2 separate regions of the Homo sapiens genome follow, and region 1 is linked to region 2. Evidence: fine-mapped expression QTL. A gene starts in region 2. The other region holds a variant in brackets. All regions are shown on one strand. Distances are from middle to middle. Region 1 overlaps FAM151B (family with sequence similarity 151 member B). Region 2 holds the start of FAM151B (family with sequence similarity 151 member B).

Region 1 (16,453 bases), 23 kb before region 2:
TCTCTTAAAATCTGCAGCGTCACCAGTGAACATGGCATCTATCTGAAAGAGCAGATGGAAGGGTCTGCACATACCTGAAGGGTCAGGCCTTTTTTTCCATCAGGCTTAGATTTTGTAGAATGGGTTTTGGTCTTTGTATTAAAGATGTTATTTTTATACCTGGAGGATATTTTAATTTGACCAAGAAATACATTATTAGAATTATTACCTTCATTGACTTTCTCAGGATGCCATCCTGTTGTCCAACCCAGGGAAAACGTCACGTCTGGAAAGAAGGATATCACGGTGTCTAAAAATGGTTTTGCATCTATTACTTTGCTATTTCCATTTGGACCAGGAAGAATATCGGCATTAATCCATACAGGACGCTTCAGATGCCTCTTCACATTTTCCAAGAGCATCATGGATGGTTCTACAACTGCCAGACTAAAAACATAATTTGTTGTCAATGAGATAGATTCTTTAGGTAAAGTAAAAAGAAGTTCTTTTAGACTAGTGGTCTCAATGTTCTCAAATTCATAATCAAAATACAATAATGTCTGGGTTAAATAAAATCAAAGATCGCATAGCACCAGAGGGAAAAGCTAACATATGCCATATCTCTAAATGTTGAACTGTGCTTATTATTCATGAATATACCTTAAAGAGTCTATAAATATATGAATAGTGGTACTACTTGTGGACAAAATAGAGGTTTCAAAACTCCATATTAGGATCACTTGGTGTGAAAACAGTTTTTTAAAAGACACAAATATTCACTCGTTCCAGAATGTATAAATAAGATAAATGAAATACACTTAATAACCTGTAAATTCACATTTATGAAATACCCAAGTGGATCCAAGCCCTGTATCTCTAATTCAGGCTCATGACCCTGGAGAATAAAAGTAGCTTCTTTCCCTTATGTATTCTTGGGTGAGTTTGGATACATAAACAATTCTAAAAATGACTGTAAAATATAAAATTATAGTATTTCCTTCAAGTTTCTGTTTCATTTTTCTTCTTTTATTGTAAGAACCTTTTCTGAAAATTAGAAATACGTATATTTTAGTTCAAATTTAAAAAGCAACTTCAATCTTTTTACTTCCCTACAGATATTCTAGCTGATAACTACAGACTTTGAAACAATAAGGTTTTAATCAGCTTCCATAATTTTTACTTGCCTATGTTCATTTATAAGAAAATTACCTTGTAGTGAATATCATAATGGGAGGCTATGAATTTTGGAGATGGATACTGGAGGGGAGAACACTCACCGACCCCTCCTCACATTTCCCTCTCTCTTCCTAAGAGACGGCAGTACTTCTGTCTATGCTTCTACCTCTCTTGTCTCCACTCCTTTTGGGCCTCCTACTCTAAGAGAAGAAATTTAAATAATCTCATTATTTATTGGGTTATGTTTACCAGTGAGCAAGGATACTATGTACTAAAACCAGAGGAACCCAGGCTCTATCCCTTAGCTTCTAGCCCCTTTCCCTCTGCTGCCATGTGGTACGCTTCCTTCTCACTCTTCTGCCCCTGAATTGGGGAGGGCCTAGATTTTAGTGGATTAATAAACCTTAATGCTGGACTCTGCAGACATTAATTTAGATGTTGTCATTTGTCTCTTTTAAATTCTCCCTGCCTTGCCCTGTGTCAACACCATGTTAAAACCACAATTCTGAGATCCAACACTGTACTTCCTACAAAATTCCATTTTTCGTAGCAAGCAACTTGTACCTGTGACTCCAAAGCTTGCTTGTCTGTCAGTCCCATAGCAGCAGCCAAGTCCCCATGAGGTGCTGCTCTTCATGGGTGGAGTAAGGAAAAACCTTGAACTAATCCATGCATGCCTCCTGCCAAGCTCCTCTTTTTCCAAAAAGGACTCTGATTTCTTAAGAAATCTGGTGTCTTATGGAAGCTGGGTTAAATACTAATTTCCAGTTTACATTTCAGGAGGGAGCCTTTTAGGCTTTCTCAATTTAGTAAGTTGACATAGAGTGAGTGGTTTAAGATTGATTCTTCATCTGATAATATCCAGTTTCTTTTTTTTTTTTTTTTTTTCTTTGAGATGGAGTTTCGCCCTGTCACCCAGGCTGGAGTGCAACGGTGCGATCTCTGCTCACCGTAACCTCTGCATCCCGGGTTCAAGCCATTCTCCTGCCTCTGCCTCCCAAGTAGCTGGGACTATAGGCATGCGCCACCACACCCAGCTAATTTTTGTATTTTCAGTAGAGATGGGGTTTCACCATGTTGGCCAGGCTGGTCTTGAACTCCTGACCTCAAGTGATCCACCTGCCTCGGCCTCCCAAAGTGCTGGGATTACAGGCATGAGCCACCGCACCTGGCCAATATCCAGTTTCAAACAGCGTATTCTCCCACAAATCGAAATTCCACCAGTGTTTACTAAGTGCCTACTACATGCGAAGCACTGTGCAGTTAAACATAAGGAACTATGACAAAGAACACAGTGAAGCAAGAATTTAGTACATTTATTCCATTTTATATGTAAATATTTTAATTATCACTAATGTAGACGAAGGATAATGATATTTTCCCTTACCAGAAACTTAAAATCTGCGGTTAAACAAATTTAAAACCTCACTAAAGAACCAAAAACTTTTTGTTGTTGTAGTTCTTATTTTCTAAAACTTGACGAAGTAATTCTAAAGTTCTTCTGGAAGAAAAGGTGTAACATTTTGTGGGAGAAAAAAGAACTGAGAACAAACTTTCCTAAACAACAAAATAAAATCTACAGTAGTCCACCTTATCTGCAGGGAATATGTTCCAAGACCTCCAAGGGATGCCTGAAACTACCTAGCACCCAACCCTATATGTAGTCTGTTTTTTTTCCCTACACATACCTATCTCTGATAAAGTGTAATTTATAAATTAGTCACAGTAAGAGATTAGCAACATAAACTAGTAATAAAATAGAACAATTATAGCAATATACTATAATAAAAGTTATGTGAATGTGGTCTCTCTCTCTCTCTCAAAATAGCATACTGTACCGTACTCACCCTTCTTCTTGTGATCTGTCAATCTGATAACTGTGACGGCTATTAAGTGACTAACAGGTGGGCAGCATATATGGTGTGGATACGCTGGACGAAGGGAAGGGATGAGTCACACCCCAGCTGGGATGGAATAGGAAAGTACCAGATTTCACCACACTGCTCAGAATGGTGTGTAATTTAAAACTTATTGTTTATTTCTCAAATTTTCCATTTAACACTTTTAGACCATGGTGTACTGCAGGTTACTGAAACTGCAGATAACAGAGGACTACTGTATACTACAAGAAATAACAGACCAAGCCTGGAAGACTCAATATTGCATGTATTATAAAATGACACATCCTTCTAAATTAATCTATAAATTCCATGTGATTCTAATTTAAAATACAGTGGCCAACATTCTCAATTCTTACATATATTAGTACTAAGTTTCCATAAGGAAGTACCAAAGCTTCACCAAGATGATCATCCGAAGAGGAAAGTCCTGGTGAGACTACTACTGAAAATTGCTCCTTGGTGGTATTTATTTAAGTCTCCTGAAAAGAATATAAACTTAGTTATTATAGAATATATTTTTTTCCTAAAAAGTTATTTGTAAATCAAACTTCTAAATATCATACCCTGTTTTCCTATTAATTTCATTTAAAAATTGGGAATGATAAAATAAATATCGTACTTAAAATTGTAACAAACTATATAAAATTGCATTGTTTAAGGGAAAATAATTCTTAGCTAAAACGCTGAAGAGCTTGCTGAGACTCCAGATAAAATTTAAAAATATAATACTTTTTTTTTGAGATGGCGTTTCACTCTTGTTGCCCAGGCTGGAGTGCAATGGCATGATCTCGGCTCACTGCAACCTCCGCTTCCCGGGTCCAAGTGATTCTCCTGCCTCAGCCTTCCGAATAGCTGGGATTACAGGCATGTGCCACCACGTCCAGCTAATTTTGTATTTTTAGTAGAAACGGGGTTTCTCCATGTTGGTCAGGCTGGTCTAGAACTCCTGACCTCAGGTGATTCGCCCACCTTGGCCTACCAAAGTGCTGGGATTATAGTCATGAGCCACTGCGCCCAGCCAAAATATAATACTTTTTATTTGTGTACCAAACAAAGTAACTTAGAAGCACAAAACAAGAACTACTAAAACTTAACTAACAGGTCATTCAGCTGCTCTTACAAAGGGAGTGAGTGCAGCATTCTGGTTAAAAGTGTGAACTCTCCAGCCAGGCTGACAGCTCTCTAGTTCCACTAACAACTACGTGACAAGCGGGCTCCTCAGCCCCTCCATCTCCATTGCCTCATCCGGAAAATGAGAATAACAGCAATAACCTACCTCTTAGGATTGTTACGAGAATTTAATGAAAAATACATGCAATGCTTTTACAACAGTGTCTGACATGTAATAGGTGTTCACATACCTATTAGTTTATATTGAATCCCCTTCAAATATGTTATGACTTTAAAAAAAACTTGCAAAATCTTTGTTTCAGAGGCTCAGCGCTTTTGTGCTAGCTGCTAGCACTTAAGAATGAATGAGCTGATCTGACTGGTGAGAAGCCAAAGAATATGTCCCAGGAAACAATTCAAGGGGCAATAGTAAACATGAAAAACTGAGCACGTGACATCAAGGAGATCTAAAAGTTTAAGCCATCAAGCACTAAAGATCAAATGCTTTATTTCATGATATAGAGAACACTGGACTGGCTTCAGGAGAATTAGGATCTGGTTGTAGCTTACCTGTCAAAGCTTACCTGTTACCCTCAGGTACATCACTTAACCTCTCTGGAACTAAGTTTCTTTGTCAATAAAATGAAATTGAACCATTGATAACTCAAAAAGTTTATGATTTTTTATTATTTATTTATTTATTTATTTTTTTGAGACAGAGTTTTGCTCTTGTTGCCGAGGCTGGAGTGCCGTGGCGCAATCTCAACTCACTGCAACCTCCACCTCCTGGGTTCAAGAGGTTCTCCTGCCTCAGCCTCCCGAGTAGCTGAATTACAGGTGCGCACCACCATGCCTGGCTAATTTTCTGTATTTTTAGTAGAGAAGGGGTTTCACCATGTTGGCCAGGCTGGTCTCAAACTCCTAACCTCAGGTGATCCACCCGCCTTGGCCTCCCAAAGTGCTGGGATTACAAGCGTGAGCCACCGTGCCCGGTCGAAAAAAAAGTTTATGATCTTAAGATAGTTCTTTAATTCACAAGACCCTGTCAATCCAAACTCCTGTATATCAAGATTTTATACATCTATTCATTCACTAACGGTATAATAAGGTTTACTGGTATATTTTGCCCCATAACAAATGGTTAGAGTCATCTTAAGAATCCTACAAGATTCCAAGTCCTTATTAATTTCTTGAGATAATTCTATTTAAAAATATTACTCAGAGATGAAGTAGGCTTACTGCCAATCCTAGATTTCAATAGCAGCTGCCTTCATAAGCTTTACAGTGTGCTTCTGAAGTGTTGCTGTATATTTCTGGCTTTCTTTATCATTTTTACACTGCTAAAATACTACAAAAGTAAAATTTCCTGTGATGGCCACAGTGAAGGAAATGACAGCTTACTCTTGCTCTTCAGTATTAATGCCTCCAAATATTATTATTATTATTATTATTATTATTATTATTATTATTATTATTTGAGAGGGAGTTTCACTCTTGTAGCCCAGGCTGGAATTCAATGGCGTGATCTCGGCTCACTGCAACCTCCGCCTCCCAGGTTCAAGCAATTCTCCTGCCTCAGCCTCCCCAGTAGCTGTGATTACAGGCGCCCACCACCATGCTTGGCTAATTTTTGTATTTTTAGTAGAGGTGGCGTTTCGCCATTTTGGTCAGGCTGGTCTCAAACTCCTGACCTCGGTTGATTCGCCCACCTCAGCCTCCCAAAGTGCTGGAATTACAGGCTGAAGCCACTGTGCCCGGCTGCCTCCAAGCATTATTTTTAAGAAACACTTTGGTTATTGGAGAATTCTAAATAATTCCCTTTACAAATATAATAACATAAATCAAATAGGGTATGCATTAACTAGCTCAATGAATTTCTCCCAGCTCTCTCTCTCCTGGGTTACTTTTTAACATATGTAGCATTTTTAATTTACCTTTCTGTTGTCACGATGGTCACTTATGATAAATTCCTTTATAAAAATTAATCTAACTTTTGCCTTTAAGGGTCTCCAAAAAACAATTTTAGTAAATAACTCAGTGGGTCTTAGGTTCATTTAGGTTCAGTCCTGAAATATATTAGAGTCTACAATTCCATTTTCAGTTTGGATAACAT[T/A]AAAAAAAATAGGTAGTCAGGCACAGCTATTACTTTTTTCCCAGAAAATTGAACGTGTTTATACAAATACCTTTTGAAATCCAGCTTGATGCCTTTATTGCTTTTCATAACTTCAGTCAGCCACTCCTGTAGAGTATTATCACTGTTTGTTTCAGGGGGATGGGCCATAATTGGCTGGCTGTGTTCTGATCCATCACTTGGAAGAAGGACATCAGCCTCTATCATGTGAGCAGTACCTGTCCAAATAAAAGAACTTCAGTTAATGCTAAGAAAACAGGGCACAGAACTACAGGAGGCACCATGTTCAGTATCCTTTTGAGGAAGATAAAAAAAAAGGAAAGAAAAGTAACACTCAGTGAGCGATTATCCCATGCCAGGCAGTATACAAGGTCCGTACACATTCTCCCTATTTTTTAGATTAGCAAACAGATGTCAAGAAGTTAAATGACTTTCCCTAAGTTACACAGATCTTAAGCTGTTGACATACAAATTCTGAATTTCTTTCTAATACCAGCAAAGTACATACATAATGAAAGGCTTAATAAGTATTTGCTGAAGCTTTCTGGGAATAAAAATCGTACTTTTATCTTCTCACTCCTCAAATTAGAAATTATGGATATTCATTGCTCATGTTTGAAAATCTACATTAAAAATTCACTTCTTTGACTTACGGTTTAGTTACTGCTTAAAAGCATACATCCTTTGAACAGGTAAGGAGCTTCAGCAGACATGGTGTAAGTATGTTCAGCAGGCTGTGACAGACTGACTCCAAGATGGCTGCCAACAACTCCTCCAGGACATGCATACCGCTCTTCCCATCAACATCCTCTTCCCTGCCTCTTCAGCTGGGCAGGTCTTGTGATGGGTTGGGGCCGTAATTCCCCAAATGCCATAATCTCGAATTTTGAAATCCCAGAAAATCAAAATCCCTAAAGTCTAAAATCCCCAAAATCACAATCCCAAAAGATCAAAATCCTGAAAATATTGGAAAAAATAATTTTAAAAATTCTTTAAAATGCATTTACTTACATTTTTTTAAATTTCTTTTTTTTTTTTTTTAGAAACAGGGTCTTACCCTGTCATCCAGGCTGATGCAGTAGCAGCATTATACTTCACCGAAGCTTTGACCTCCTGAGCTCAAGCAATCCTCCCGCCTCAGCTTCCTGAGTAGCTAGGACTACAGGTGTGTGCCACCATGCCCAGCTGATTTTTTTAAAAAATATCTGTTGTAGAGACAGGGTCTCACTATGTTGCCCAGGCTGGTCGTGAACTCTTGGGCTCAAGTAATCTTGCTTTGGCCTCCTCAAGTGCTGGGATTACAGGCATGAGCCACTGTGCCAATCCTGTTCATTTTTAAAAGGGCATTTATTTGAGAAACCTATGAAAACATGGCAGAACACTTCAGAGGCCACTTTACACAATAAAATAGGCAATAATAACACACATTTTTGCAAGCATAAACACCCAGGTATATTAATCAGTTCAGAGATATAACATGAGCAAATGAACTGTAATCATAAAGAAATAGCTTAAATAACTGCAGTCATCTGAAATAACTTGATGAACAACCTAAGTCTTTTGACAAGATCAGTCAAAAACTGTGATGGGTTGCCATCATACACATAGTCACCCAAAGAACTGTGATCTTGAGAAATTTTATCTTTCACAAATGCAGATGTACAAATGGATATCTCTTCATTTCCTGTGAAAGTTTCAACGTTTTTATCAATAAGCGCAATGGTTACACACAAAGTCAATGTTGTGAAAATGCAGCTCTGTGGAGTCAAATTTGAAAAAAATGCATAAAACAAATTAGAACACTCTAAGAGTCTTTATACAATCTATACCTCCAATACCAGAAACAATGCAAAGATGAATTATGTAGCATAGTGAATTATAAAAAACAATGCTGACCATTTAAAATAGTGGAAATGGCCAAGCATGGTGGCTCACGCTTATAATCCTAGCACTTTGGGAGGCTGAGGCAGGCAGATCACCTGAGGTCAGGAGTTTGAGACCAACCTGGCCAACATGGAGAAACCCCGTATCCACTAAAAACTCAAAATTTAGCCAAGTGTGGTGGCAGGCGCCTGTAATCCCAGCTACTCAGGAGGCTGAGGCAGGAGAATCACTTGAACCCAGGAGGCGGAAGTTGCAGTGAGCTGAGATTGTGCCACTGCACTCCAGCCTGGCCAACAGAGCAAGACTCCTGTCTCAAAAAAAAATTTTTTTTAAAGATAAATAATAAAATAGTGGGCAAAAACGAAAAAGAAGCTTTGACACATGAAAAAAGTGGGATAGATGACAGGTAATCGCACAAGTGTACTCCATAAGAGGTGGCCAACCTGCACTGCAATAAATAGTTGCTTTCTTCTTTCCTTTTTTTTTTTTTTTTTTTTTTTTTGAGACAGAGTCTCACTCTATTGCAACCTGAAACTCTTGGGCTCCAGGGATCCTCCTGCCTCAGCCTCCTGAGTAGCCAGGACTACAAGCATGCACCACCACACCCTGCTAATTTTTCTAAATTTTTAGTAGAGATGAGGTCTCACTGTGTTGCCCAGGTTGGTCTCAAACTCCTGGACTCAAATGATTCTCTCACCTCTGCCTCTCAAAGTGCTAAGATTCCAGGTGAGAGCCACCACACCCGGCCACATTTTTTCTTTTAGGGCATGAGTCTCCTTGGAGGATACATTCAGATTCATTTTCTATGTGGCGCTGTTTTTTCTCAACTTCTTCTATGATTTGATATGCACCTGCATGAGTATTCCCTATTAAACTTTCCGATCTTCTGTGCCATGTTTCTATGCTGTTTTGGGTATGTGGAAATCCATTTCACATGCACTTATATGCAGATCACAAATTTGGTGGAAACAATACTGATGGTCAAACAGCAACTCCAGGGCATGTCTTCTTATCCGACCATGCACGTCATTATCTTCAAACCAGTCAGTAATTTCTCTGGCTTCTTCATGCAAATGCAGCTTTAATTTACTAAAAGCTCCTAGAATTTCATCAGCGGGAAGGAATGCCAATACAGATCCATAAGGCATTTTAAACTGAAGTTTTTGTCACTGCCATCTCACGTGACCAATCCACTCATCTGAGTTTTCTGTTAAAGGCATCAGGCTGAATGAAAAAGACAAACTTTACTGGTAACAACTTGAAATTCACTCTTATAAGCCTTGATTGCACCTAATTCTAAATCTATCATTATAGTTTGGGGATTCAATTAGATATTAAGGATTTTAGGCTATGGATTTTGATCTTTCAGCATTTCAACACTTGGGATATGGCATTTGGGATTGTGTCTTTTGGGATTATGATTGGCACCACTTGTGATCTGCTTTGACCAACAGAAGGTAGTGGAAATAAAACTGTCAGTTCTAGGCCTAGCCTTTAAAACTGCTGGCACCTTCAGTTTTCTTACTCTTGAAATCCAGCCACCATGTAAAGACATTCATGCAAGATTACCGAAGACTGAGAGACCACATAGAGAGAGAGAAGCCACGTGGAGGAGAACTAAGACTTCCTATCTGACAGAGAGCATTAAGGCCACTGACATATGAGTGAGGTCATTTTAGAATTTCCAGGCCCAGCTGGGCACCCAGCTGAATGCAGCTACATGAACGTCCTAAGCCCGTACTACATGCAACAGAACCACCAGCTGACCCATAAAATCATCAGAAAAAAATACAGCACTGCTATTTTAAGTCACTCATTTTTGGGTATTCTATTACACAGCAATAGATAAAAAGCAATAGGTAGCTGGAAGTGGAGTGTTGCCATATCAAAAACCTGAAACATGTGGCATTGGCTTTGTGACCTGGTGGAGGCTAAGAAAGGCAAGGAGGGAACTGTTCATGGAAGCTGGAAGAGCAGTGCAGAAATTCTTACTGGAAGCTTGAGAACAATAAGCTCATTTTATTGTTTTCCATAGTGGTAAAACTTCTGGCAACACTGTCACTGTAGCAACTGGTGGAAGATAGACAGGATACCCAGTGAACCTGTGTATTTGGCTAAAGAGGTTTCCAGGGGAAATGGTGAAAGTGGCAACTGGCTTCTTTTAACTGCTTATAATAAAGAATGAGAAGAAAGAGCTAAGCTAAATAATTAACGTTTCAGATTTTCAGCAGCATATAGAGAAAATATTTCCAAATCAGGACTTTCTGAATTTGAAAATAAAACTGTTTCTTATTCCTGTCCTCTCCAGCTGGCAAGAGATTCTCAAAGTAAGAGACAGTCTCGGGCCAAAATTTAAATCTAGGGTGTTGCCTGTCTTAGTCTGTGTTATACTGTGATGACAGAATAACACAGACTGGGTAATTTATAATAAACAGACATTTATTGGCTCACCATTCTGGAGGCTGGGAAATCCAATATCAAAGTGCTGATACTTAAAGAGGGCCTTCTCACTGCATTTTCATCTGGTGGAAGGCGGAGCGAGAGAACACCCACTTTCCAAAGTCCTTTAAATATGGCATTAAACCCACCCATGAAGGTGGACCCCTCATGGCCTAATCACCTCGCAGCAGTGTTACACTGGCAATTAAATTTCAACATGAAGCCAGAGTGGTGGCTTACTCCTGTAATCCCAGCACTTTGGGAGCCAGAGGCAGGAGGATCACTTGAGCATAGGAGTTCAAGACCAGCCTGGGCAACATAGCGAGACCTCATCTCTACTGGAAAAAAAAAAAAATTAGCCAGGCATGCTGGTGGCACACGCCTGTAGTCCCAGCTACTTAGAAGGCTGAGGAGGGAGAATCGCTTAAGCCTAAGAGGTCAAGGCTGTAGTGAGCTGTGATTGCGTCACTGCACTACGGCCTGGGTGACAGAGTGAGACGTTGTCTCTTAAAAAAAAAAATTTCAACATGAGTTTTGGATGGAACAAACATTCAAACCATAGCACCAGTAAAACATGGCCTCAGTGTCAATATCAAGCCAAGGGTACAACCATATGACCCTTTATTAAGCCCTCAGAAAGAAGGTGCCTCATGTAGCCACATAGCTAGATATGGAATCTTCTGGAATCTTAAGGGTGTTGTCCACTGCACCTTAACTTGCATACCAAAGTAGAGAGAGGTCTACCTCAAAGAGACGGGGGTGTGGCTTCTGATTAAATTTAATATATTAAAAGCCCACTATATTTTTAAGGGAGATATAACTACTTGGACACAAAAGGACAGAGATAGTTCAAAACGAAAAGAGGTCTGTGGGCTCCCAAATTTCTACAGGCAGGGAACAGGCTAAGAAAGCTACTCAGCTGCAAATATAAGCCAATTTCCAAAAAGCACACAAAGAGATGCTCACCAGCATTAGTCTTTAGGGGATGCAAATCTACACCACAATGAGATACCAATTCATATACACTTAGCTGGCTATAATTAAAAAAAAAAAGTACAATAACAAGTGTTGGCAAAGATGTGGAGAAACTAGAACCCTTATCCACACTGCTAGGAGGAATGTAAAAAGGAGCAGGCACTTTGGAAAAGTTTGGCAGTTCTTTAAAAAGTTAAACATATAGTTACCATGTGACCCAGGAATTCTACTCCTAGACATATAAGCAAGAGAACTGAAAACACATGTCTACAAAAACACCTGTATGTGAATGCTCATAGCAGCAGTAATCATAGTAGCAAAAAAGGGAAACAACCAATGTCTACCAGTTGATGAATGGATAAACAAAATGTGGTATATCTACATACAAAAATGATTCAGTCATAAAAAGGAATAAAGAACTGATACACACTAGAAAACAGCTGAACTTTGAAAACATACTAATTGAAGAAGCCAGTCACAAAAGGCCACATAGGAAGGTGCTTCCCTGAATTTTGATTCTGGAGTCAGGAAAAGTCTTTTTGAGGAAGTGACAATTCAGCCGATACCAAAGGATCAGCTTAAGGGGTTAGCAAGGCAGAGTGTGGGGAAAAGAGCTTTCCAGGAAAGAATGTGTGTGACAGCCCAAGGAGGAGGGAGCGTAGCCATGCAAGGCACTGCTGTGAGGCCAGTGTGGGAATTTCTAGGAATGTGAAAACACTGTGAAGGTGGACTTGGAGACACAGGCCAGTCTGTGCAGGCCCTTCAGGTTATTGAAGTAGTTTGAAGATGCCAATAAATAGCACCCCTTTCTCCAAATGGATCTGTTTTTTGTTTGTTTGTTTTGAGACAGAGTCTCGTTCTGTCGCCCAGGCTGGAATGCAGTGGCATGATCTCAGCTCACTGCAGCCTCTGTCTCCTGGGTTCAAGCAATTCTCCTGCCTGAGCCTCCCAAGTAGCTGGGATTACAGGCATGCACCACCATGCCCAGCTAATTTTTGTATTTTTAGTAGAGACGGGGTTTCTCCATGTTGCCCAGGCTGGTCTCAAACTCCTGGTCTCAAGCAATCCACCTGCCTTGGCCTCCCAAAGTGCTGGGATTATAGGCGTGAACCACCACACCTGGCCTCCAAGTGGATCTTGAGAAATAAAATAGCCAAGTTAAGTAGACAGGGATCAAAGTATACTTGTATTACCTCTAAAGCTAGGTCAGAGGACACAGCTTAGTTGAGAACTAAATAAGCCTGTGCCTGCTACCTGCTAACTGCCACAGTCACCCTCTAGTCCAAATCTTGGAACAGCCCCTTTGAAGCAAAGTTCTAACAAATACAAATATCCAGATGGCTGCTTCCCAGTGGAAGAGAAGAGCTCACTCCCTTGTCCAGCACATTTTTTTTTTTTTTTTTTTGAGATGGAGTCTCACCCTGTTACCCAGGCTGGAGTGCAGTGGCATGATCTTGGCTCACTGCAACCTCTGCTTCCTGGGTTCAAGCAATTCTCCTGCCTCAGCCTCCCAAATAGCTGGGACTACAGGCATGCACCACCATGCACAGCTAATTTTTGTATTTTTAGTAGAGACGGAGGTTCACCATGTTGGCCAGGCTGGTCTCGACCTCCCAAAGTGCTGGGAGTACAGGCGTGAGCCACCTTGCTTGGCCTAGTGCATTTGATAGATTAGCTCCACCCAGTCAAGAACTACAAATCAAAACAATCTCTCAACCTCTATGAGAGAAATAAACAGTGAGGCAAGAGGTCAAAGCCTTTAGGGAAAAAAATCTCTCCTCTTGGAAACCAGAGCAGTAGAACCAAACATGTTTCTATCTAGCAATTATATTAAAGATTTTAAATGGAACACCATTTGAGACCAATAAAGAGGCTTGATTTATGTTTAAATATACCACTTTGGATGCTGGGTGGAAAATAAAATAGACAGGGGCAAGTGTGGAAGCAGGGAAAATAATCTATCCAATTAGGATGGACTCATAGATCTACTGGATGCTTCTGGCGGCAAATAAATAGAAATTCAGATTCAAGCTAGTAGATTTATCATCTCAAATAACTAAAAGTCCAGGGGTCAGGTGAGCTTTAAGTGTGGTACAATCAGCAGCTCAGTGATGTTATTGTGATCTTTATGTCTCTTTTCTTCACTGTCCTTGGTGTCGTCTTCATCGTAAGGCTAATTTCATCTCATGATTTTAAGACAGCTACCAATAATCACTAGGGCTACATATTTTCATGTTCACATACTTCAATTTTAAGATATAAAACTTCTTTGGTAATTATAATTACTTTACTTGAGTCTAATTGAGCCCAGTTTGATCACTTGCCCACCATGGGAGCAATATGAATCATCAGGAAAACTTCAAGTGCTGATTAACTTATTGTAATGCACCCCTGGAGCTACAAATGGAACCAGTTTCCATATGCTTGTATGGAGCAGAAATGGATACCTTAATAAAAGTAAAGTTCTTGGCCGGGCGTGGTGGCTCACACCTGTAATCCCAGCACTTCGCGAGGCCAAGGCAGGCGGATCATGAGGTCAGGAGTTCGAGACCAGTCTGGCCAACACGGTGAAATCTCGTCTCTACAAAAAATACAAAAAATTAGCCGGGTGTGGTGGTGTGAGCCTGTAATCCCAGCTACTCGGGAGGCTGAAGCAGGAGAATCACGTGAATACAGGAGGCAGAGGTTGCAGTGAGCCGAGATTGTGCCATTTCCCTCCAGCCCAGATGACAGTGCGAGACTCTGTCTCAAAAAAAAAAAAAAAAAAAAAAAAATTCTTATAGGAAGAAAGAAAAGGGGACTGGTGATGTAGTAAGAACTCAATGGATGTGGCTGGGTGCGGTGGCTCACGCCTGTAATCCCAGCAAGTTAGGAGGCCGAGGCGGGCAGATCACGAGGTCAGGAGATCGAGACCATCCTGGCTAACACAGTGAAACCCCGTCTCTACTAAAAATACAAAAAATTAGCCAGGCGTGATGGCGGGTGCCTGCAGTCCCAGCTACTTGGGAGGCTGAGGCAGGAGAATGGTGTGAACCCAGGAGGCGGAGCTTGCAGTGAGCCGAGATCGTGCCACTGCACTCCAGCCTGGGTGACAGAGTGAGACTCTGTCTCAAAAAAGAAAAAAAAAAAGAACTCAATGGATGTTTGCTATGTCTCTCTTCTCTAAGCTATACCATATTTAGGATCTTTTAATTACAGTGAGGCAAAGCATAAAATAACAAAATGGCTGGGTGTGGTGCTCACACCTGTAATCCCAGCACTTTGGGAGGCTGAGGCAGGAGGACTGCTTGCAGCCAGGAGTTTGGGACCAGACTCTCTACAAAAAATAAAAATAAAGAAATAAACACCAAAACACCAAGACCAATCAAAGAGTTTTATACTCCTTTTATTCTCTATCAAATGCAATTCTAAGCAATGTCCAGGTACTATCCAAACAGCTTCCAGCCCTCTGCCAAAGGTGGAATTCTTCAACCATGTGAATAGTGCTGAGTCCTGATGTTTGTGTGGCTTATCTCGCCAGGGGGAGGGCAGATACAGAGAAGTTGTTCTTTCACCCTATGGCCAAACTTCTGCAAGGACAACAGGGCAAGTGAATTTGCAGAAAGATAGATGATCTAGTCTTTTATTATTTTCCCAGGATGAAGTTGGGGAAGGGGGTTGTAGGTCTCCTTTATCAGTGTGGTTATAAAGGGGCACAAAAGCTTGGAATCTTTCATTTAAGAGTGATAGTCTAATCCCAGCACTTTGGGAGGCCAAGGAGGGCAGATCAGGAGATCAGGAGATGGAGACCATCCTAGCCAACATGGTGAAACCCCATCTCTACTAAAAATACAAAAATTAGCTGGGCATGGTGGCACATGCCCATAGTCCCAGCTACTCAGAGGCTGAGGCAGGAGGATGGCTTGAACCCGGGAGGCAGAGGTTGCAGTGAGCATAGATCGTGCCACTGCACTCCAGCCTGGCGACAGATCAAGACTCCATCTCAAAAAAAAAAAAAAAAAAAAAAAAAGAGTAATAGTCGCAGTCTGCTAATTCCATTATTTCCAATAGATAGAAAAAAAATCAGTAAATGGGCAAGTTGAGGAGTCTCTGGGCCCATGTAAAGTATGTTCCTAAGGTCTCCTACATGAAAAAAAAGGGGGAACTACAGCAGTATGAGCAAGAAATCCTGGTGGCTTCTAGGATAATGATAAGAAAGATGGAAAGAAAGATGTGGACTAATTCAAAATGTATTTTGGAATAGAATCATAATGATTGGATATTAGATACAAGAATAAAGAAAGGAGCGAAAAAATGACTCCTAGATTTCTGGTTGAAACATCTAAGTAGATTGTGGTGCCATTTCCTGAGACAAGAAAGATCACAGGAAGTGCAGGTTAGTAAATATAGTCAAGAATCTCATTTCGGATAACGTAAATTTGAGACGCATGAGAGATCTCTAAGTGGAAACATCAATAAGCAGTTGGATGGACTAATATTAACAGTCCTAACAAGAGAGGGAGACCTGGCCTGGAGACACAGAAGATACAGAAGCTGCCCAGCCCCTCTCCCTAGTCTTCCATCCATAGCCTGTGGGTAGAAGACTTTTAAAAGTCAGGGCACACTTCTGCTTGGGAGACTGCATGGTTCTAATAGTCTCATATAACAGGGACAGCAAGAGGAGGAAGTCTGTATATCAAGGCATACGTTGCCTCACCCACAGGAGCTCCAGCTTGTGACCATGGCCAGACTTTGCCTTGCTTCATCAACTCCTGTTCAGCATAGCAAAAGTAACTTTTCACCATCCCCAGGCTATGATGGCAAAAGGGCTTTGTATATACTATTATTATACAAATTGTAAAATTTTTTAAGTTGTATT
Region 2 (16,453 bases):
CCCTGGTTTTGGCTGTTTTGGTAATTTAAAAATTGCTTTTATTTAAAGCTCCCCAATTTTTAACATCTTGCATTAGTGTGGTATGTCTGTTAGAATAGATGAGCCAATACTGACATTTTGTTAACTAAAGTCCATAGTTTACATTAGAATTCACTCTTGGTATCATACATTTTATAGGTTTTGACAGATGTCTAGGTGTACATCTGAGATAGAAGGTTCAGTTATGGGCCACTGGAATAAAGTGAGTATCACAATAAAGCAAGTCACACAATTTTTGGTTTCCCAGTACATATAAAAGTTATGTTTACACTGTTATACTGTAGCCTATTAGTTGTACAATAGCATTATGTCTAAAAAAATGTGCATACCTTAATTTTAAAATACTTTATTGCTAAAAAGTGTTAACAATCATCTGAGCCTTCCGCTAGCTGTAATCTTTTAACTGGTAGAGGGTCTTGCCTCAATGTTGATGGCTATTGACCAATCAGGGTGGTGGTTGCTGAAGGCTGTGGTGGCTGTGACAATTTCTTACAATAAGGCAATGAAGTTATCGACATCAGTGGATTCTTCCTTTCATGAAAGATCTCTCTGTGGCACACAATGCTGTTTGATAGCATTTTACCCACAGGAGAACTTTCAAAATGAGAGTCAATTCTCTCAAACTCTGCTGCTGTTTTAACAACTAAGTGTATGTAATATTCTTTATCATCTGTGGTCATTTCAACAATGTTCACAGCATCTTCACCAGAAGTAGATTACATCTCAAGAAAATACTGTCTTTGCTCATACATAAGAAGGAACTCCTAGTTCATTAAAGTCTTATCATAAAATTGCGATAATGTAGTCACATCTTCAGGCTCCATTCTAATTCTAGTTCTCTTACTAGTTCTTTTTTTTTTTTTTTTTTTTTTTTTTTTTGAGACGGAGTCTCGCTCTTTCGCCCAGGCTGGAGTGCAGTGTGGCGCATCTCGGCTTACCGCAAGCTCTGCCTCCTGGGTTCATGCCATTCTCCTGCCTCAGCCACCCGAGTGGCTGGGACTACAGGCGTCCGCCACCACGCCCGGCTAATTTTTTGCATTTTTAGTAGAGACGGGGTTTCACTGTGTTAGCCAGGATGGTCTCAATCTCCTGACCTCATGATCCGCCTGCCTCAGCCTCCCAAAGTGCTGGGATTATAGGCATGAGCCGCTGCGCCCTGCCCTCTTTTGCTATTTCTATCACATTTGCAGTTACATCCTCTATTGAAGTATTGCATCCCTCAAAGTCACCCATGAGAGCTGGAATCAACTTCTTCCAAACTCCTGTTAATGTTGATATTTTTACCTTCTCCCATTAATCACAAATCTTCTTGATGGAATCTAGGATGATGACTCTTTGCCCACATCCATCAGAGGAATCACTATCTATGGCAGCTATAGATTTACAAAACATTTCTCAAATAATAAGACTTGTAAGTCAAGATTACCCTTTGATCCACGGGCTGCAGAATAGATGCAAGCATGCAGGAAAACAGCATCAATCTCTTTGCACATCTCCATCAGAGCTCTTGGGTGACCAGGTGCCTTGTCAATCAACAGTAATATCTTGAAAGAAATATTTTTTTTCCTGAGCAGCAGGTCCCCACAGTGGGCTTAAAATATTCTGTAAATCATGCTGTAAACAGACGTGCTGTCATCCAGGCTTTGTTGTTACGTTTCTAGAGCACAGGCAGAGAAGTAGATGTAGCATAATTCCTAAGGACCCTGTGATTTTCAGTATAGTAATGAGCACTGGCTTCCACTTAAAGTCACCAGCTGCATTAGCCCTAACAAGAAAGTCAGCCTGTCTTTTGAAGATTTTAAGCCAAATATTGGCTTTTCCCCTCTAGCAATGAAAGTTCTAATGGCATCTTCTTACAATAGAAGGCTGTTTTATTTACACTGACAATCTATTGTTGGCCCTGCACAGTGGCTCATGCTTGTAGTCCCAGCACTTTGGGAGGCTGAGGTGGGAGGATCACTTGAGCCCAGGAGTTCGAGACCAGCTGGGGCAACATGACGAAATCCCGTCTCTACAAAAAAATACAAAAATTAGTAGGCCGTGGTGGTGTGTGCCTATAGTTCCAGCTACTTGGGGGGCTGAGGTGGGAGGATCGATTGAACCCAGGAGGTCCAGGCTGCAATTAGCCACGATCATGCCACTGCCCTCCAGCCTGTGTTACAGAGGGAGACCCTGTCTTAAAAAAGAAAGAAAGAAAGAAAGAAAGAAAGAAAGAAAGAAAGAAAGAAAGAAAGAAAGAAAGAAAGAAAGAAAAGAAAGAAAGAAAAAGAAAGAAAGACAGAAAGAAAGAAAATCTGCTGTTAGTGCAGCTACTTTCATCAATGATCTTAACTAGATCTTCTGGATCACTTGCTGTAGCTTCTCCATTAGCACCTGCTGCTTCACCTTGAAATTTTTTGTTGTAGAAACAGCCTTTTCCCTTAAACCTCATGAATCAACCTCTGAGAATCTCCAGCTTTTCTTCTGTAGCTTCTGCACTTCTCACAGTCTTCATAAAATTGATGAGAGTTAGGGCCTTACTCTGGATTAGGCTTTGGCTTAAGGGAATGTTGTGGCTGGTTTGATCTATCCAGACCACTCAAACTTTCTCCATATATCGGGGGAACCAGCCCCCAATATTTCAACGTACGTTCTTTTCTATTTTCCCTAAGTGTCAGCTGGTCTGAGAAATAAAGAGAAAGAGTACAAAGAGAGAAATTTTACAGCTGGGTCTCCAGGGGTGACATCACATATTGGTAGGACCGTGATGATGACCCCGAGCCACAAAACCAGCAAGTTTTTATTAGGGATTTTAAAAGGGGAGGGGGTGTATGAACAGGGAGTAGGTCACAAGGATCACATGCTTCAAAGGGCAATTAAGATCACAAGGCAAGGCAAAATTAGAATTACTGATGAGGGTCTATGTCCCGCTGTGCACATATTGTCTTGATAAACATCTTAACAGGAAACAGGGTTTGAGAGCAGAGAACCGGTCTGACTAGAATTTACCAGGCTGGAATTTCCCAATCCTAGTAAGCCTGAGGGTACTGCAGGAGGCCAGGGTGTATTTCAATCCTTATATCAACCGCATAAGACAGACACTCCCAGAGCAGCTGTCTATAGACTTCCCCCAGGAATGCATTCCTTCCCCAGGGTTATTCCTTGCTAGGAAAAGAATTCAGCGATATCTCTCCTACTCGCACATCCATTTATAGGCTTTCTGCAAGAAGGAAAATATGGCTCGATTCTGCCCAACCCCGCAGGCAGTCAAACCTTATGGTTATCTTCCCTATTTCCCTGAAAATTGCTGTTATTCTGTTCTTTTTTAAGGTACACTGATTTCATACTGTTCAAACACACATGTTTTACAATCAGTTTGTACAACAGTGGTCCTGAGGTGACGTACATTCTCAGCTTATGAAGATAACATGATTAAGAGATTAAAGTAAAGCCAGGCATAAGAAATTATAAGCGTATTATTAGGGAAGTGATAAATGTCCATGAAATCTTCACAATTTATGTTCTTCTGCCTCGGCTCCAGCTGGTCCCTTCATTCGGGGTCCCTGACTTCCCACAACATCCATATCAGCAATAGGGCTGTTTTGCTTTCTTATAATTTGTGTGTTCCATGGAGTGGCACTTTGAATTTTCTTCAGGAGCTTTTCCTTTGTATTGACAACTTAGCTGTTTGGCACAAGAGGCCTCTCTCAGCTTTCGAAATGCTTTTCTCACTAAGCTTAATCATTTCTAGCTTTTGATTTTGTTTTTGTTTTTTTTAGAGACAAGTCTCACTCTGTTGCCCAGGCTGGTGTGTAGTGGTGCAATCATAGCTCACTATAATCTGAAACTCATGGGCTCAAGTGATCCTCCTGCCTGGGCATCCCAAGTAGCTAGGACTACAGGTGCATCCCACCACAGCCAGCTAATTTTTAAAATTTTTTGTAGAGACAAGGTCTTGATACGTTGCCCAGGCTGGTCTTGAACTGCCGGCTTCATGTGATCTTCCCACCTCAGCCTCCCAAAGTTCTGGGATTACAGGCATAAGCCACTGTGCCCAGCCCTCTGGCTTTCGATTTTAAGTGAGAAACAGGTGACTCTTCCTTTCACATAAACACTTAGAGCCCATTCTATGGTTATTAACTGGCCTAATTTCAATATTTTTGTGTCTCAGGAAATAGTAAGACCCTAGGAGAGGGAGAGAGACAGGAGTATGGCTGGCTGGTGAAGCAGTCTGAACACACACCATATTTATTTATTTATTTTTTATCCTCGCCAAGCCGGCCAGCATGCACTGCCCAAGCCAGCAAGGCTCACACACCACATTTACAGATTAAGTTTGACTTTGTGGTGCCCCAAAACAATTATTATAGTAGTATTTGAAGATCACTGATCACAGATCACCATAATAAATATAATAATTTTAAAATTTGAAATATTGCAAGAATTCCCAAAATGTGACAGACACAAAGTGAACACATGCTATTGAAAAATACAGCACCAACAGACTTGCTCAATACAAGGTTGCTACAAACCTTCAATTTGTGGGAAAAAAAAAAAGGATTATCTGCAAAGCACAATAAAGTGAAGTACAATAAAACAAGGAATGCTTGTACAATGGCATGTATCCACCACTACAATATCATACGGAATCACAGTGTTGCTGCTCCAAACCTCTGTGCTCCCTCTATTTATCCCAACCTCCTTCCCTGTGCGACCTGTGGCTGTTCTCCAGCTACCATAGCAGAGTTGATTAGTTGGAACATAAATTTATGCCTTGCAAAGCCCAAAATTTAATTTCTGGTTCTTTACAGAAAAAGTTTGCTGACCACTAAGATATGGAAACAACCTAAGCACCATCAGCGGGTAAATGGATAAAGAAAATGTGGTATAGATACACAATGGGGTACTATTCAGCCTTAAAAAGGAAAATTCTGTCATCTTCGACAAACGAAGAAACCTGGAGGGCAGTATGCTAAGTGAAATAAGCCAGGTACGGAAAGAAAAATACTGCACAGTCTCACATTTGGGACATCAAAAAGTAGAGCTCTAGGAGTAGAAAGCAGAATAGTGGTTACCAGAGGCTAGGGATGCAGCCAGGGCAATTGGATGGGAGGGGGATATGTCAGTCAAAGGGTGCAAAGTTCCGGTTAGACAGGAGGAATAAGTTCCCAAGATCTATTGCACAGCAATGGTGACTATAGTTAGTAATTCCAGGCATGCTGGCTCACAACTGTAACTCCAGCACTTTGGGAGGCTGAGGCGGAAGGACTGCTTAAGCTCAGTAGTTCGAGACCAGCCTGGGCAATGAAGCAAGACCTTGTCTCTACCACTAAAACTAACAATAATAATAACCCAGGCATGGTGGTGTGTGCCTGTAGTCCCTGCTATTCAGGAGGCTGAGGCAGGAGGATCACTTGAGCCCAGGAGGTCAAGGCTGCAGTGAGCCATGATTGCACCACTGCACTCCAGCCTGGGTGACAGAGCGAGACCCTGTCTCAATGATAATAATAATAATAATAATAATAATAGTGTATTATATATTTTGAACTTCTTAAATGAGTAGATTTTAAATGTTCTCATTACAAAGAAATGATAAGTATGTGAGGTGATGGATATATTAATTAGCCTGACTTAATCATTCTACCATGTATACATGTATCATAACATCACATTGTACCTCGCAAATATGCAATTATTATTTGTCAATTAAAAATAAAATTAAAAAAGAAAGTTTGCTATTTGCTGACCCCTGGACTAGACAATCATTAAGGTTCCTTCCAGTTTCCAAAAGTGACTACCAGAATTGACTTACCATTAAAGACAATGTACCATATGTCCACACAAAAACTTGTACACAAATGTTCACAGTAGCATTATTCACTATACCCAAAAGATGGAAACAACTCAAATGTCCATCAACTAATGAGTGGATAAACAAAATGTGGTGTTTCATGCAATTCCTTTTTTGGCCATAAAAAGGAATGAAGTATTGAAACATGCTACAAGATGGATGAATCTTGAAAACACTATGATAAGTGGAAGAAGCTAGACATAAGAGGGTCTATATTGGATGATTCCATTTATATGAAACATCCAGAACAGGCAAATTCATAGAGACAGAAAATAGAAGAATAGCAGTTGTGGATGTTAAAGGGTGGGGGATGGGGAAGTGTTTCTTTTTGTAAGGTGAAGATGTTTTAAAATTAATTGTGGTAATTGTTGCACAAGTCTGTGAATAAGCTAAAATTAAATAAATAAGCTAAAACCACTGAATTATACTCTTTAAATAAGTTGTATATTAATAGTATGCAAATTGTACATCAGTAAGGATTTTGAAGAATTTATTAATTTTTTTAAGGCTCTGGCTCTGTTGCCCAGGCTGGCATGTTCTTGGTTCACTGCAGCCTCTCCGGCTTAAGCGATTCTCCCGCCTCAGTCTCCTCCTGAGTGGCTGGGTCCACAGGTATGTGCCACCACCATACCTGGCTAATTTATTTGTTTTCTTTTGGAGAGATAAGGCCTCCCTGTGTTGCCCAGGCTGATCCAAACTCCAGGGCTCAAGCGATCCTCCTGCCTTTCAAAGTGTTCAGATTACAGGCGTAAACCACCACGCCCGGCCAGGACGGAACTTTTCACTATACATCCTATTGTGCCTTTTGAACTTTTTTATGTTGAGAATGTGTGTGTGTGTGTGTGTGTGTGTGTGTGTGTAAGGGGGAAAAATGACATATAACGGAAGAATCTGGTTAAGAATTAGTTTTATCAATAACTCGGTAATGAGAAGAAATTTTTGTTTTTGTTTTTGTTTTGAGACAGTTTCTCTCTGTTGCTCAGGCTGGAGTGCAGTGGCGCAATCTTGGCTCACCGCAAGCTCCGCCTCCCGGGTTCACGCCATTCTGCTGCCTCAGCCTCCTTAGTAGTTGAGACTACAGGCGCCGCCACCACGCCCGGCTAATTATTTTGGATTTTTAGTAGAGACGAGGTTTCACTGTGTTAGCCAGGATGGTCTTGATCTCCTGACCTCGTGATCCGCCCACCTCGGCCTCCCAAAGTGCTGGGATTACGGGCGTGAGTCACCGCGCCCGGCCCAAAAATTTGTTTTTTAAAAAATGGCATTTGTCAGCAATTGGACATTTTTCACTTGTGCACACATTTTATTCCAAGATTTTGTAAACCTTGCATCGATTCAGAAGAGAATCTGGATTTATACAGCCTGTGAGTGAGAATGGTGTAAGTCTTGAGTGTGAGCTTTGTCCCAGATTTGTTTGGATTCTTAGGAAAACTAGGCATTAAAAGGATTTATACTGAGAAGAGCACAAGGGTTAAAAAAGGAAAACTCTGGTCTGAAAAAATGTTCTACGGAGGTTTAGCACAGATCTTAAAAAAGAGAGAGAGAAAAAAGTTCACATCCTTTGATCCAGTAATTTCAGTTACAAGAATCGTGTCCAGGATAAAAACAAACCAAAAACATAACTGAGGAAGAACAATGCAAAAATGTTCATTACAGAATGAATTCTAACAAAACAAAACAAAACAGGAAACGACTGATTAACGTTCAACATTAGGAGACTGGTTAATTACAATATAATTGTATACAATATAATTGTATAAAACACTTCAGTCATTCAAAATTATGTTTATAAAAACCTTGGTGACATGGGATAGTATAAGATGCAGGATTTTAAAAATTATGTTTACCATGACCTTAACTCTATTTTTAAGAGTCAGGGTTGTTAGAAAATACCAAAAAGTTAGTAGTGGTGCCTGTGGGTATCAGCATTTGGGGGATTTTTTTTTCCTATTTCCCTATACTAATATACTTTATAAATGTTCTATAATGGCATTTATCAGGACCTGGACATTTTTCGCTTACACACACATTTTATTCCAAGATTCTGTAAACTGTGCATCGATTCAGAAGAGAACCTGTATTTATACAGCCTGCTAGTCAGAATGGTGAAAGCGTGTATTATTTTTACAATTAGGGAAAAAAATCTAAACTGAAGAAAGAACGCGTCACTGACGTTGTCTCATGCCACTACTTAAGTTTACAGAAAAGATACTGTAACCTTCAAGAGCGGAACTGCTGTCCCGCGAGTTGAAGCACCTGATTCCAAGGGGAATCAAGCGAGCCGCACACTCTGCCAGCTTTCCAGGCAGCGCGCTCAGCAGCGGGACTATGCCGGGCCCGGCCCAGTCCGCATTCCCAAACCTCCCCCAGCTTTCAAAGAGGAACCTACTGACCCAGACCGCCCCCATACGGTCGGCTGAAATTAAGGATTAGGGAAACGTCACATTCCTTTCTTTCCAACCCAGACCTCAAAAGACACTGACCCTGCCATTCTCGACCTCCCCTAACGCCTGTCCCTTAGAGCCCACCCGGCAAACCAAGGTCCTTGCCAGGCGATCGCGGGCGCGCCCCGAGTGCAGAGCGGGCTCCAAGCCCAGCCGCCCGGTTCTGCGCGGCGCGCTCCCAGGTCCCTAGCAAGGAAGACCGCGGGAGCCCGCAAAGGGAGGGTACGGCCGGCGGAGCCTCTCAAAGCGCCCCACCTCCAGGCAGAGGCCGCGCGCTCGGCGCTTACCTGGGCCTCCAGCGGATGCTGCCATGGTGACGACGCCCGCCGTCCGCGCAGGCGCCCAGGCTGGCGCCCCTGCTAACCGGGCACTGGTGGCAGGGAAATTCGACTCCACAAACCACAGGCCTCGGCGGGGGAAGAGCCCGGCGGGCGCCAGCGAAGCGGAACCAAACGGAGCCGCGGCACGCAGGCGCAAAGGCTGGCGTTCGAGGTTCGTTTACGCGCCGCTTCGCCGTGCAGGTGGTGGCGAAGCGCTCCTCCGAAAGGTTTCGGAAGCTGGTGGTAGCTCTGAAGATAACGCTGCGTTAGGGCATACTGCGGCGGAGGATGGAACTCCGATTGAAAGCAGTTGCTGGAGTGGAGCACGAATTTCAACAGTTGGGTATATTTTCTTTTAAATGTTAGTAATATCCTAAAAGGGTGTGGAATCATTACTGATAAAAATCAGTGTTTCTGGCCGGGCACGGTGGCTCAGGCCTGTACTCCCAGCACTTTGGGAGGTCGAGGTGGGCGGATCACTTGAGGTCAGGAATTCGAGACCATCCTGGCCAACATGGTTAAAACCCGTCCTTACTGAAAATTTAAAAAATTATCCTGGCGTGGTGGCGCGCGCCTGTAATCCCAGCTACTCGGGAGGCTGAGGCACAAGAATGGCTTGAACCGGAGAGGTGGAGGTTGCAGAGAGCCGAGATCGCTCCACTGCGCTCCGGTCTGTGCGATAGAGCTAGACTGTCAAATAAATAAATAAATAAATAAATAAGTTTTTGTACAAAGTTACCGAGCTGATAACTTGAAGTTTTCTCTCCCCTTCTGTCTCTCTACCAGTGTTCACTCAGAAAACGCTCTCAGCAACTGGGTCCTCCCATCCACTGTCTTTCTAGCCCTCCTTAACTCATTACTTTTTGAAGCCAAACTAGTGATCAGAATTAACAACAAAGCTCTGCCATTTTCAGCTTCTGTGACCAAAAAACTCAATCTGCCAGTGGTAGAGTTAGGATAACTAACATCACCTGACACGTAATACAAAGGGGAGTTATTCTTGCCCAGCCTTTCAGATAAAATATTTTTCATCACTCCAAAGCAATCACTCTCCATTTACCCCCTTCCTACCCCCAGGCAACAACTCATCTACTTTCTGTCTCATGAATTTGCCTATTCTGGAATTTCATGTAAATAGAATCACAGACTGTATGTATGATCTTTGTAACTGGCTTCTTTCACTTAGCATGTTTTCAAAATTCACCCATGTTTTAGCATGTATCAGTACTTCCTTCCTTCTTATGCTGGAATAAATTCCAGTTTGTAAATACCACATTTTATGTGTGTCCATTCAACAGCTGAAGGACATTCGGGTTGTTTCTACATTTTGTCTTTTATGAATGCTGCTGCTGTGAACATTCATGGACAAGTTTTGTGTGGACGTATATGAATACATTCCTGTGTGCATATCTGTGTACATACCTAGGAGTGGAACTACTTGTTCATATAGTAACTGTTTAACTGTGTGAGGAACTGCCAGTTTTGCAAATCAGCTGTACCATCTTTCATTCCCACCAGCAATGTATGAAGATTCCAATTTCCCCACATCCTTACCAGTCAGTACTTGTTGTTATGTTTTTTAAATTATAGCCATCCTAGTAGATATGAAGTACTACCTCATTATCTTGATTTGTAGTTCCCTACTAATAATATTGAGCATATTTTCAGGTGCTATCGGTCATTTATATATTTCCTTTGGAGAAATGTCTTCTCAAATCCTGTGCTCATTTCAATTGTGAGAATTCTTTATATAGTCTCAATACAAGTCCCTTAACAGGTAATTTGCAAATATTTGCAATATTTTCTCCCGTTGTGCAGATTGTCTTTTCACTTTCTTGATGGCATTGATTGCAGTACAGGTCTTTTTTAAAAAACTTGTTTTTCTTTTTTTTTAGATGAAGTCTCACTCTGTTCCCCCAGGCTGGAGTGCAGTGGCACGATCTCGGCTCACTGCAACCTCCACCTCCCGGGTTCAAGCGATTCTCCTGCCTCAGCCTCCTGAGTAGCTGGGATTACAAGCACGCACCACCACGCCTGGCTAATTTTTGTATTTTTAGTAGAGACAGGATTTCACCATGTTGGCCAGGCTGGTCTCGAACTTCTGACCTCAAGTGATCCACCCGCCTCAGCCTCCCAAAGTGCTGGGATTACAGGCGTGAGCCACTGTGCCCGGCTTTTTTTTTTTTTCATTTTTAAAATTTTTAACTTCAGGGGTCCAAGTGCAGGTTTGTTACACAGGTAAACTGTATCATAGGGGTTTGTTGTACAGGTTGTTTCATCACCCAGGTATTAATCCTAGTACCCATTCATTGTTTCTCCTGCTCTCCCTCCTCCCACCCTCCACCCTCCAAAAGTCCCAGTGTGTTGTTCCCCACTCTGTGTCCATGTGTCTCATCATTTAGCTCCCACTTATAAGTAACAGCATGCAGTATTTGGTTTCTGTTCCTGCATCAGTTTGCTAAGTTTTTATGACATATTGGTCACAATATTACAATATTTTCATATATTTTACAATAACTGACTCAAAATTCCTCTTCACTGTCCTTATTTTTAGAGCCGCATGTTGAAGTGTGAGGCGTGAAAGGGTATGTCTGATATTTGCTTTAAAATGCTCCAGCAAAGAAATTAAGGGATGGATGAAGCAAAAGAGGTAAGTCTTGATAGTGTTGACTCAGAGGATTGTTGTAGGCTGGGTATATAGATTTTCATCCTACTATTTCCTTTACTTCTGAGTGTTTGGAAATTTTATGGTAAAAATAAGTCTAATTACTTTTTTGGCACAAAAAAGGTTTTGTAAGTTAAGGGTACATGCTGCACTGGGGAAAGAATATAACGATTAGAATGTGAGACACAGGCCCCAACTTGAGTCTGGGGCTGCTTTTGGTGACATCTAAACATGAATAAAGGCCAGGCATGGTGGCTCACACATGTAATCCCAGTACTTTGGGAGGCTGAGGCAGGAGGAGACCAGGACTTTGAGACCAGCCTGGACAACATAGTGAGACCCATCTCTACGAAAAAATAAAAAACAAGCCAGGTGTGTCGGCATGTGCCTGTAGTATCAGCTAATCAGGAGGCTAAGGTGGGAGGATTGCTTGAGCCCAGGAACTCAAGGCTGCAGTGAGCCATGATCACACCACTGCATTCCACCTGGGCCGCAGAGTGAGACTCTGTCTCAAAATCAAAACAAAGCACTGCATGAATACAGCTTACCTCATTTTCAGAGTCCTAATAGCTAGAAAGTTTTCCCTCAAATTCCAATTTAGTTTCTAGCTGTGTGACTTTGGACAGATTACTCTCTCTCTGAACTTGGTATCTAGTCTATGAAATGCAATAATAAATCACAGGGGAACTGGGTGCAGTGGCACGCACTTGTAGGCTCAGCTACCCAGGAGGCTGAGGCAGGAGGATGGGTTAAGAGCCTAAGTTCAAGGCTGTAGTGTGCCATGACTGTGCCTGTGAATAGCCACTGCACCCTAGGCCTGGGCAATACAATGAGACCCTGTCTCATAAATAAATAAATAAATAAATAAATTTAAAAATAAATTACAGGGTAATATTCCTTGTTCTGAAGTTTGCTTTGTCTGATAGCAAAATAACCACTCCAGCTTTGTCCTTTTCTTCTTCTTTTTAGTGTTTGCATGGAATATCTTTTTCCATCCTTTTACTTTTTAACCTGCATGTACCATTGTATCATAAGTGGCTTGTATAGATAGCATATAAATTAGGTTTTAAAAAAATCCATCTGGCCAGGCATGGTGGCTCATGCCTGTAATTCCAGTCCTTTGGGAGGCCAAGACAGGCAGATCAGTTGAGGACAGGAGTTCAAGACTATCCTGGACAAAATGGTGAAACTCCATCTCTAATAAAAACAAAGAAAAAATTAGCCAGATGTGGACATGCCTGTAATCCCAGCTACTCAGGAGGCTGAAGCAGGAGAATCACTTGAACCTGGGAGGTGGAGGTTACAGTGAGCCGGGATTGTGCCACTGCACTCCAGCCTGGGTGACAGAATAAATGAGACTTGATCCAAAAAAAAAAAAAAAAATCAATTGCCATATTTAGACCATTTACATTTAATGTAATTGTTATTTATTTTTATTTTTAGGGACAGGGTCTTGCTCAGTGGCCCAGGCTGGAGTACAGCGGTATGATCACAGCTCACTGCAGCCTCAAACTACTGGGCTCAAATGATCTCCCACCTCAGCCTCCTGAGTAGCCAGGACTATAGGCATGCACTACCATGGTTGGCTAATTCTTTTAAGTTTTATGTAGATACGGGGCCTCACTACATTGCCCAGTCTGATCTTGAACTCCTGGCCTCAAGTGATCTTCCTGCTTCAGCCTCCTAAAGTGTTGGGATTATGGGCATTAGCCACCACACCTGGCCTAGTGTAATTTTTGATACAGCTGGATTTAGGTCTACCATTTTAGCATTAATTTTTCTTGTTGATCCCTTATTTCTTTTACACTTGTTTTCCTTGCTGGCTTTATTTTGAATTATTTAAAATTCCACTTTATATGTCGGCTTTTTAAACATATCTCCTTGCATAGTTTTTTAAAATGGTTGCTCTAGAGATGATCATTACATACCAAACTTTTTGTAACCTACTATAATGTTTTACCACTTTAAGTGAAATTTAGAAAACTTACCATATAGGTTCTGTCACTGTCCCCTTGGTTAGTATGCAGTTTTCATCTGTATTACATCTATATGCATTGAAAATCCCAAAAGATGATGTTACAATTTTTTTATTTCAGCAGTTACATATATTTTAACAAACATGTAAGTCTATTTGGTTTATCCAGAGATTTGCCATTTTGGTTGCTCTTCCTTCTTTGCAATCATTTTCCTTCCCCATGAACTTCCTTTACCATTTCTGTTAAAGGAGGACTACTAGCAATGAATTATTTTAGCTTTCCTTCTTCTGACAATGTCTTTATTTCAGCCAGGTATGGTGGCTCATGCCTCTAATCTCAGCACTTTGGGAGGCCGAAGCAGGCAGATCACCTGAGGTCAGGAGTTTGAGACCATCCTGACCAACATGGTGAAACTCGTCTCTACTACAAACATAAAAAAATTAGCTGGGCGTGGTACCACGCACCTGTAATCCCAGCTACTCCTCTGGAGGCTCAGACAGGAGAACTGCTTGAACCGGGAGGCGGAGGTTGCAGTGAGCTGAGATCGCACCAATCCATTCCAGCCTGGGCAACAGAGTGAGACTCCATCTCATAAAAAAAAAAAAAGTAAAGAAAAAAAAGAAAATGTCTTTATTTCATTTTCTTTCCTAAAGAATATATTTGCTGGATAAAGGATTCTGTGTTGACAGTTTTGTTGCTTTTTAAAAGCACTTTATAAATGTTGCTCCATGGTTTCTGATGAGAAATCTGCCATCACTGAAATCTTTGGTTCTCCTATATACAAAGTGTTGTTTTCTTCCAGTTGTTTTCAAAGTATTTTCTTTACAGTTGGTTTCATCACTTTGATTATGACGTGCCTGGGTGTGGTTTTCCTTTTTGGGATTTGCTGTGCCAGCAGACCGGCTTTAAATAGAATGCTATGTAAATGTATGTGAATATTTGTTTTTTGCCAGATGTTTGGAAGTTTTTAGCTATTATTTCTTCAGATATTTTTTTCTTCCAATTGTTCTTTCTGGGCTCCTAAGACATGAATATTAGACTGTTTCATATTGTCCCACAGATCCCCAAAGGTCTTCTCATTTTTTTCACTTTTTTCTCTGTCATTCAGACTAGATAATTTCTGCTCATGTATCTTCAAATTTACTGACTCTTCCCTCAGTCATCTTCATTGTGTTGAGACCTTCCAGTAAATTTTGTTATTGTATTTTCAGTTCTACAATTTCCACTTGTTTCTTTTTATAGCTTCTATGCTGAGACTTTTAGCTTTCCATTTATTTCAACAGTGTTTCCCTTTATATATTTCCTTTGGAGAAATGTCTTCTTTGTGTAGCATGATTAAAATAACTAGTTTAACGGCCAGGTGTGCTGGCTTATGCCTGTAATCCCAGCACTTTGGGAGGCCCAGGCAGGCAGATCACTTGAGGTCAGGAGTTTGAGACCAGCCTGGCCAACGTGGTGAAACTCTGTCTCTATTAAAAATACAAAAAATTATCTAGGCGTGGTGGTACACACCTGTAGTCACAGCTACTCAGGAGGCTGAGACAGGAGAATCACTTGCACCCTGGGGGTGGAGGTTGCAGTGAGCCAAGATTGTATCACTGCACTCTAGCCTGGGTGATAGAGACTGTCTCAAAAATAAATAAAAAAAATAAAATAACTAGTTTTAAGTCTTTTTCTGATAATTCTGACATTTGGGTAACCTTAGAGTTGGCTCTTGTTCATTGTCTTTTCCCTAGAGAGTTGCTTAGGTTTCACAAGTTCTTTGTCCAATCATTTTGGGTTGTTTCTGGGATATATTTGGAATATTATGATATTCTCTATCCTGTTTAAATCTTCATAAGAATGTTTTTGTTTTGTTTTGTTTTAGCAGACCATCAATTCAGTTAAGTTTCAGAGCACACATCCTGGCCACTTTTTTTGGTGGCTGTGGTTCCAATGTTAGTTTTCACTGCCTTTGTTAAGCTGTTCTTTGCCCCAGTTGTGCACCATCTAGTGGCCAATCTGAAACTTGGACAGTGGCCTACACTGTAATTCAGTGTTCAGAACCTTTGCTCAGCTGCTTCTGGTTAGTTTCACACATACACAGCTTGTGAGATGATCCCAGGATTTTATTGACAGATTTAAGGGTTCCTTTTCTTCAGTTCCCTCCTATTTGTGATCTTACCTATACTCTGGTTTCTAGAACCCCATTCTTGGTTTTTGGCTAGAAAGTCAGGGCGTTAGCCTCCCCATTGCCAGTGTTCTGCCCTGCAATGTCTGCCACTAGTGCACCAGGGGGAAGAGAAGAGTGATACCTCTTTACTGCTGCGGGATTGATGTAGAGCAAGGAAAGTCCAGAAGGTTCCAAGTCATTACCCATGGTTCTCCTGGTGGGGCGGTGGGTCTTACTGCATCTTTCCTGAGGCTCTCTTAGAATACTGCAATTAAATTAAAAAGGGTTTTGTCCCATAGCCTCCAACCTCCTTTCTGGTCCTCTGACTAGAAACAGCAAATTGTTCCTTGGACTATTTTTCTCTCTGTCAGCTAGCATTTCCAGTTTTCCTGTTAAATGTCTTTTTTCTTTTTCCTTTTTTTTGAGACAAGGTTTTGCTCTGTTGCACGATCACAGCTCACTGGAGCCTTAACCTCCTGGGCTCAAGTGATCCTCCCACCTCAGCCCCCGTGAAGCTGGGACCACAAGTATGAGCCACCACACCTGGCAAAATTTTTTTAATTTTGCAGAGACAGTGTCTCCCTGTGTTGCTCACTCTGGTCTCAACCTGAGCTCGAGTGATCCTCCTGCCTTGGCCTCCCAAAGTGCTCGATTACAGGTGTGAGCCACTGCACCTGGCCTTATTATGTGTCTATGTGTGGATTTTCTAGTTTATTCTGTTTGGGATTTGTCTGGCTTCTAGAATGTGTGGGGTCATGTCTTTCATCAGTTTTTAAAATTCTGCATTCTATCTAAGTATTTGCTCTGTCCTATTCTTGCCTCTCCTCTCACAGCTAATGAAGCACTTAGGATTTTTCACTGTATTCTCTACAGGTCTTCTGTTTTTTTTTCCAGCTGTTTCTCCCATGGTGCACTGTGAATAGTTTCTCCTGAGTTATCTTCCAGTTTATAAACTACCCCAATTGGCTACATTCTATTACATCTATTTACTGAGTTTTAAAGTGCAGTTTTTATGTATATTCTTGTA

Evidence for each region. PIP is the estimated chance that this variant, and not a neighbour inherited with it, causes the effect.
Region 1: its variant is fine-mapped to the expression of FAM151B in whole blood (TOPMed, PIP above 0.99).

What each region holds. Positions count from the first base shown.
Region 1 is chr5:80,503,666-80,520,118 of GRCh38, reverse strand. It overlaps FAM151B (family with sequence similarity 151 member B), which reads right to left. Exons shown (of 6, transcript NM_205548.3): 3 at 6,350-6,515; 4 at 209-426. Among named protein-coding and RNA genes, the nearest start is that of FAM151B, 24 kb to the right of the region's middle. RefSeq lists enhancers at 6,369-7,568, 12,508-13,008. The variant T/A (reference allele first, on the strand shown) is at 6,280.
Region 2 is chr5:80,480,296-80,496,748 of GRCh38, reverse strand. It overlaps FAM151B (family with sequence similarity 151 member B), which reads right to left and starts at 8,649. Exons shown (of 6, transcript NM_205548.3): 1 at 8,601-8,649. The coding sequence starts at 8,625. ZFYVE16 (zinc finger FYVE-type containing 16) reads right to left here. Exons shown (of 19, transcript NM_001284236.3): 19 at 13,370-16,453. It overlaps FAM151B-DT (FAM151B divergent transcript), which reads left to right and starts at 8,803. Exons shown (of 3, transcript NR_172938.1): 1 at 8,803-8,971; 2 at 11,188-11,283; 3 at 13,583-13,949. RefSeq lists enhancers at 2,639-3,225, 8,044-8,543, 8,544-9,045 and silencers at 8,085-8,379, 15,182-15,291.